Homo sapiens: one gene and its partner. The protein of the gene in region 2 purifies or fractionates together with the protein of the main gene of each other region. This does not show direct contact. Each region holds a gene or a part of one and is shown on either strand. Other genes may lie near its edges. The genes, in order: ARHGEF35 and HPS4.

Region 1 (4,321 bases), on a different chromosome or scaffold from region 2:
CCTGCTCAGCCACCAGTTACCGCAAAGGGAGAACATACCCCACGTTCCCTATACTTGATCCTATCTCAGTGATCCCGTTGCAATCAGGCATGACAAAGCTAAAATGTGACAAAGTGAAAGGAAATCTGTAAATCATGGTCTTACTCACGTAAAGGCATCAGGAGAGAGTTTTTTGCAATGCTCATTACGTTAGAGTGCAAACATCCTCATCTCCTTCTCCACTGAGGGTGAATAATCACTGTTTATCTGTGTACAGGCAAAGCCAGGGCATGGGATTATGGGGATACGGCCTTGCTTCAGACCACAGACATTCTGCATCCACATAACCTCACCCACGTGTGACTTCTTGAGAGGCAAAGCTTCAAGTCATCCCTTTAACATAATGTGTGACAGAGCTCACTATCTTCCCTAGAGCCCCCCCACCAACACCTTAGCTCTTGTCTATTTCTAGTCACTAGAAACAACACTGTATTTCAAGGATACAACCCCTCCCCAATCAAACTGCCAAATCTTTGAACTGAGACTCAGTGCCATATATATATTTTTGAGGACCATGCTTCCTGGATTTTCTAGCAAGGTTGATTTCAAATATTCTGACTTACAAATCACTAAAATAATATTGAGGTTAAAATAAGATCACCACATAGATATATAACTTTATTCACTGTTTGACATCACTGCCCTCAATACTACAAAGATATCAAAACAGGGGTAGCTTTCTGGACCACTGACTACTACAATGTGTGTTCTATCCATTGCAGGAAAGTCCCACCATGCCAGTGAAAGCTGTAATACACATTTATCTATTCTCTAATGTCTGAAAATGTCACACCAACTGCCTTATAGACCAGATAGTTTATATAAGAACATTATTAGTGTCAATGCTGACTTACACTCTACAATCTCATCTGTGGTCCTGGTGGCATCCACACAGATAACATTAGTGTGAGTGACGTGTTTGTGTATTAACATAGACCTTGAGGGTGACTTTGTTCCAGTCTACCTTGCAGGCACTATAAGTGATCGGCTCCTGCTTACTCCACAGACACTGTGAGTGACCCAGCCCCTGTCTACACTAGAGCTGTTGGTCACCTGTTTGTCTACACCACTGACACTTGAGTAATGCTGCTCCCGTTGAACCCAAGACCCTACGAGTGACTCCATTCCTGTCCATACCACATAGCGACTGACCTCTCCAGACACCACAAATGACGTATTCCTGTCTATCCCACAGACACCACGTGTAACGTGGCCACGGAACCTCAGACAGACCGCGTTAAGGGCACTGATACACTCTCAGGACCTCTAATATATGAACACTCTTCTCTCTATTGAGAATCACTATATTCTGTTGATGAGAGGGATTCCTTTGCACTCCTCCTGATTTCTCTCTCCTCCCCACTAGGACCATGACATACATTCCTCCTGCATATCAGTCTCACCCAGAACTGACACGCCCTCATCCCATCTTCCCAGCTCCCCAGGACTCCTTCACTAGCCATGGCTTCACTTTTAGGCCCACAGATTGGTTAACAAATGACACCCATTTTGCTAAGGCCTATGCCAGGAACTTCTTCATGCTCCAAATGTGGATAAAACAAGACGTCTGAGACAGAGGCCACATCAAGAGCTTTTTAGCTGGAGCTGGGACCTCTGGATTAGGCCCAAGATGCAAGGCCAGACAGTGGAGTGCAGTAGGGGAGCAAGCTAGGGAGGAAGCTCGAAAGGAAAACCACCCTCTCTCATCTGTTTGACACACCCTTCTCTCTCAACCAGACAAGAGTCCTGGCCAGAGTTCACTTCTAGGTAGACAGGAGGGCAAATCTGTCTTTGGAACCCAAGATCCAGGAAGGGAAGAAAGGGACTGAGATCTGGAAATGACGTAGTATCACAACTGGCTCTCCTCCGGTAGTCTTGCCGGAAGGCAACTGCAAAAGATGCTCAGGGGTTCTAGAGCTCTGCGTCCGCATTCTAGCACCCCAACGCCTACCTCAGCCCCCAACTCTAAATAACTTCTTTCCACCTTGCTAAGAATGCAACGTTGTGATTCACATCAAGCTTTAGGAGGCTCCCCATATGTAGGGAACTGGGGTGAGGGGCAGGGCAGGATTCACTGTTCCAGGTTACGGAGCTTTGGTTAACACGGAGAGAAGCTACACATAGACTCACACAGTATGCAAATACCTATGGAGATACATAAGGAAAGGCCCCGGCCTGGTTAAGGAAAAGGAGCCGATAAAACCTCTCCAGGTAAGGAACAGCCTAGAAAGGGAATCTCAGTTATTCCTTCTGATATGGCTTAGCTTTCCCCAGGGCGCCTACTTTGAAGAAAGAGCCCTGATTATTGGCCCGGGGAACGTCTGGGGGCAGGGTGCCCATTTCCTAGGCGGGACCCGACCGGAAGCAAACTTGTAGGCAACAACATTTCCTCTAGTTCCTCTCCTCTTCCCCACCAGGGTCCTCAGCCACACACCCCGAGCCCTGCCTGCGGGCCCAGCCCCCCCATTTCCGGAGCCTGCGCCCCGGACCCAGCGGGGGCTGATCCCTGGGAAAGGCCTGGCTTCCTCTTCCTTCCTGTCCCTGCCCCACCTCCGCCGGGCTCCACAGCCGCCGGGAGCCCAGGGCCGAGACGGGAGGAGGGCACCCACCTGGTCGGTGTCACATGCTGCTTCGGCCCCAGCGTCCCCTCCAGGTCCCGGCGCCGGCCGCAGTCCCCAGAGCCGTCCCCAGCGCAGGCCCGGCCGCCCCACCCGCGGCCCGCCCCTGGCCGCCCGACGGGAGGGAGGGATCGGGTTCTCCTAGGAAGTTTCAGGTGAGGAAACAGGGACACACCTTCCCGGAGGAGGGGCAGGGCCCCTCCGCGCGCGAGCCCCATTGGTGTGAAAGAAGCTCCCGCGTCAGAGCTGGGAAGTGCCGGGCCGGCGGAGAGGGGAGCCCGGGCGCACGGGCCAGGCCGCGGGCTGTCCCAGGGAGCCCCGAGGGCGCGGTGCGCGGGCGCAGGTCGGGCGCAGGCGGGGTGACCCGGGGAAGGGGCGCGCACAGAGACAGAGGGAGCCAGCCGGGCCCCACGGTGTCCTCGGACGCCTCCGAAATCTCCCTGCGTGTTTGTTTCTTCGGAGCTTCACCGGAGCCTGACTCTGGAACCGGCCTGTCTGCCTGCTGCAGTCTGTATGTGTTTGTCTTTTGCCTTGGCCGTGCCTCTGGAAGTCTGACATCCGTGGTTGTACATGTGTCTTTATCTTCAGGCCTCATTGGTTTTTGGTTTGTTCGTTGTTGTTGTTGTTGTTGTTTTTTCTGAGACGGAGTCTCGCCCTGTTGCCCAGGCTGGAGTGCAATGGCGCGATCTCGGCTCACTGCAACCTCCGTCTCCGGGTTCAAGAGATTCTCCTGCCTCAGCCTCCCGAGTAGCTGGGATTACAGGTCCGCGCCACCATGCCCGGCTAATTTTTGTATTTTTTAGTAGAGGCCGGGTTTCGCCATGTTGGCCAGGCTGGTCTGGAAACTCCTGACCTCAGGTGATGCACCCGCCTCGGCCTCCCAAAGTGCTGGGATTACAGGCGTGAGCCACCGCGCCCGGCCAAGGCCTCAGTGTTGATTTCTCTTCCGTGATGTCTCCTCCTATAGAATAAAGAGTGTCTCCTCCATCTCCTCCTCCGCCCCCTTCTTCGTTTCTCTCTCTCTCTCCCTCCCTCCTCCCCCCTCCCTGTCCCTCTCCCTGCCTCTTCCTCTCCCCTCTTCCTTCTCCTACTTAGGGCCTAGAAGTGTGCCTCTCTGAAAGGACATGCCCGTGTCCTTCTGTATTCCCGAGTTTATTTTAGAATGAGTGCGTATCTCAGGGTGTATGTTCCTTCTAGGGCCTGTGTGTGTGTGTGTGTGTGTGTGTGTGTGTGTGTGTATTTAAATCTCTAAGCCCATGTTTGTGTGTTTTCTTATGCCTGTATTTTTTTTTTATTCTTTCAGGGAAACGTTTTGTTCTGTTAGTCTTGGAGGCCAAGGCTGAGTGGGTTTATCTCTGTGCCCCTCCAGTGACTTCAAAGAATGCCAAAAGTCTCTCGAGTGTGCCTGTGTGCACACACAGACACACACAAAGTAGGAATCCTTTACCTGGGGGACAGAGATTTCTGTTATTTTTGGTTGAATCTGACCACTCCCCAAAGCCATTCACTACTCCAGGGGTTTCCATGGTGACATAAGTCAAGTGAAATATTAATGGACTCCTTGCCTATTTAGCTCTTAGGAATGCCATGGTCTACAGCCCAAACAGCTTGGCTAGACCATTTCTAGATCACTGTGCCCATTGGCTGTTGCCAATGATCCTGGT
Region 2 (3,815 bases):
TTTTCTGTGCCTCATTTTTCTAGTCAACTGCAAAATGGGAACAGTACGGGACTATTGAGTGACTTAAATGAAATGACACATCCAAAAGTCCTTTGTAAACTCTAAAGTGCTATCCTGAGGCAGAGTCTTTTTATAAAGTCAAGGAAATGAAAATAATCATATAAAAGAAATGGTGTCTCTTTAGAGATCACAGATAATTTGTGGACTATTTTTCAACAGCTATGTAAGAAAAATAAGTGCATATAAAAAGTACAGAGATGCAAACAGAATGCTTCTGAAGTAAATGTCATGAAGCTTACATGTTATTTTGGGAGTATATTGGTGTTAAATCAGTTTTCCTGTATGAAAGTCTCAGAAATGATATTTCAAGTCAATAGGTGTGACATACAAAGTTATTTTCTATGCGCTCAGTTTTGTATCCTCAATGCTTAGTAGAGTGTCTGACTCCTAGTAGGTGCTCAATAAATGAATCCACTAAATGAATGAATAAATGAACACATCCAATGCCAAGCACTGCCAATTTATGAGCTATTTGGTTTAAACCAAGGTTGCAGAGCTATGTAAAAAGATATGTGCTCAGGAAAGACAATCATAATATCTCATGTTCAGATCACTGAGAGAGCCTGACCAACACTGCGTTTAACACTGAGCCTCTTATTTGAACAGATGTGTGTGTGTGCATGTGCCGACACGCACACGGGCACACATAAGCATTCACCTGATGAAGTCAAACCACAGCCTCACTGAAAGTTTTTGGACCTCAAGAACGTGCTAACAGTCATCCCTTCCATGCTGAGCTGGTGTCCAGAGGAAGAAACAATAAGAACAGAGAGTGAGCCATGCCAAAAACTGTTTCCCCACAGGCACGGAGCTTTGCTTCCAAAATCTTCTGCCTAACTTGCACTCAAGATAGGATCACTTAACCATAAAAACACAGTTAATCACAAGATGCTATGTCAGATGACATGTGGATAATTTTTACTGATAACCAAGTGCTTTCATACATACCAGGGGTCAGCAAACTCTAGCCTATAAACTAAATCCAGCCTGTTGCCTATCTTTGTACAGTCTGAGACCTAAGAATGGTTTTTATATTTTTTTACTTGGTTGGGGAAAAAAGTCAAAAGAATAATATTGTAACATGTGCAAATTATATGAAGTTCCAATTCCATGTCCATAAATAATTACTGGAATACAGTCATACCATTTATATACTGTCTATGGCTGTTTTTGTACTGCAACAGCAGAGCTGAAAAGCTGTGCAAAGCTGAAAATATTTGCTTTCTGGTCCTTTACATAAAATGTTTGCCAGCCACCGATATATACTGCTACATAATGTGATCCTCACAACAGCCCTAGGCAACACAGAGCTGAGGCTAATTCCCGGGTCCTCTGACTTCTAGTGCACACGAAAGCAAGTGGCACAAATGTCAGTGTGTGACACAGCGTGCAGCAGGAGCAATGCATGGAACACACATTCACTTAGAGATACCGGTTTCCCAGTTGGGGGAAGGTGTTTTTTCATAAAATGTTTTATGGCAACACTCTCACACTAACTTCAAGCCTCATGTACTGTACACAGAAGCTCCATGTCCTATTGTAGTGATAAATAATTAATCTGATCACTGTGTTTGAAGGTCAAGGAGATTATCTTGGGGTCTGAGTAATGGACTATCAGCGGCTCTATGCTGCCCCCTGGTGTGAGCCTATTCCACTCCCTCTGAGGGAATTCCAGCCCCAATCCCAACCCTCCTGGCTGCTCCACCCAGGGCTCCTTTCACCAATCCCAACCCCTGCTGCCCCTCACCCTACCCCTACTCCCTGTGGAAGCTGATCCACCCAAAGACAAGACAGCCAAATGACACAAGGGCAGCTTGGCAGTATGTAACATCATTAAGGAGCCCTTGCAAAAGGGGTGTGCTCACCGTAACTGGGGGTATTTGGTTTTTCTAGACAGTAGCAGAGGGGCTGCAGGGAAATCAGATAAAGTATTTTCAAGGCTAGTCTGGGACAAAAAGGCAATCAAACACCTCTTCCTGATTATAAAACAGAAATCCTTTGGGTCTGATTAACAAACCCACTCTCAAACCAGTGGGCTGATCAAAGTTAGTCACTCCATACTAGAAAAGATTAGCTTTTCAGGGATGGGTGCAATCATGCCTGTAATCCCAGCACTTTGGGAGGCCGAGGCGGGCAGATTACCTGAGGTCAGGAGTTCGAGACCAGCCTGACCAACATGGAGAAACCCCGTCTCTACTAAAAATACAAAATTAGCCGGGCCTGGTGGCACATGCCTGTAATCCCAGCTACTCAGGAGGTTGAGGTAGGAGAACCGCTTGAACCGGGGAGGCGGAGGTTGCAGTGAGCTCAGATCACACCATTGTACTCCAGCCTGGGCAACAAGAGCGGAACTCCATCTCAAAAAAAAAAAAAAAAAAGAAGAAAAGATTAGCTTTTTCTCTTCCATAAAACTGCAGTCTATTTCCCGGGGCCTAGCCAGCATCAAACCCTGCTTTCCACAGAAGCCCATGGAGGCTGATGTCGTAACAGCATGGATAGACCTTGACAAACCAGGGGATATGGCCATAGAGCACGAGCCACAGAAGGCAGGACACTGACCCCCTTTCTTCAGCTTCCCAGCTATCACTGCAAGGGCAGGGCAGTGGGGGGACAGAGAGGCTGGGGTGGGGAACCAGAAACAAGCAAGAATTCTGGACCTGCCACTTGCAGGAAGTCTTTTCATCTCAATGAGGCTGTTTTCTTACTGGTAAAATGGGAGTTACAATGCCTCCTTCCCAGAACTGTTCTAAGGCTTGGCTAAAACGAGAGATGCGAAGTATTTCACATATAGTTGGTGCAGAATACATCTCAAAGAGCAGCCTGGGCTATTTTTTCCTTTTTGTGGGGGAAGGTAAAAAGAGAGGTATTATATCCACTTTATTGCATTCAAACACTGGGCCCTTCAAAATGACACTTCCAAGGCTCGACACTGTGCAGAACAGACCATGAAAACCAAGGCATTGGCAGGGAGATGAGGCATTTAACACTGCAGCCACAACTCCCCGCACTGCTATAAGAAGGAGATGGATAGTCACTCCTAGCTATGGTGAATGGGGATACAGGAAGCAAATGAGCCATAACTCAGTGATCCAGCGTCTGTGGAAAGGGCACAGAGAAGCCTGACAGCTCCAGAGAGCATTCTCTTGCTAGGAGCTCTGTGCAAGGAAGCTGCTGTGCAGTCTTATCTCTTCTTCTGTATTTCAAGGTGACTAGCTCATTTATGGAGGGTCACAAGCCCTGCATGATAGTAAGATCAGCTTAGAATAATACACATTTAAGAATAAAAACAAGGAAAGCCCCAAGACACCATTTGCCCTGCAGCAATTTCAACCTGCTGTTCTTACTGCTACCACTTTCCCTGCCTACTAAAGCAAGGCTGTTACTATAGCAACGAATCTCCAGCGTGGGCCCCAGGGAAGGTCAGTTTACCACTCTAAGCCTCTAAGCGGGGAAGGGGCTGCAATAGTTTAAGAGCCCTCCAGAGCCAGGCAGGATTTCAGACATCCCAGCCTTCTAGGAAGGAGCTTCAGATCAGGTACGATGCTGGGGCTATGGAGGGAAACACTGGGTTTCTAGGGAACTCCCAACCCAGGCTGTGACACACTGCGGAGGAGTTTCCAGCTGACACAGAACCTAGAGCTGTCCAGGCTAGGAAATGAGGCCATGAGCAGGGGCGGCACAACACATGCACGTACGTGTGCAGTCTCTGCCTGCATTATCTCACTGCATCTGGAACAGGAAGGTCTACCACCATC

The links.
Region 1: the proteins of HPS4 (region 2) and ARHGEF35 purify together in Homo sapiens (co-immunoprecipitation; one large-scale study listed by IntAct). This does not show direct contact.

The regions. Positions count from the first base shown.
Region 1 is NC_000007.14:144,192,890-144,197,210, forward strand, and holds the start of ARHGEF35 (rho guanine nucleotide exchange factor 35), read right to left. Parts: upstream 2,945-4,321; 5' UTR 2,649-2,944; exon of another isoform or gene 2,432-2,648; intron 1-2,431.
Region 2 is NC_000022.11:26,459,707-26,463,521, forward strand, and holds part of HPS4 (BLOC-3 complex member HPS4), read right to left. Parts: intron 1-3,815.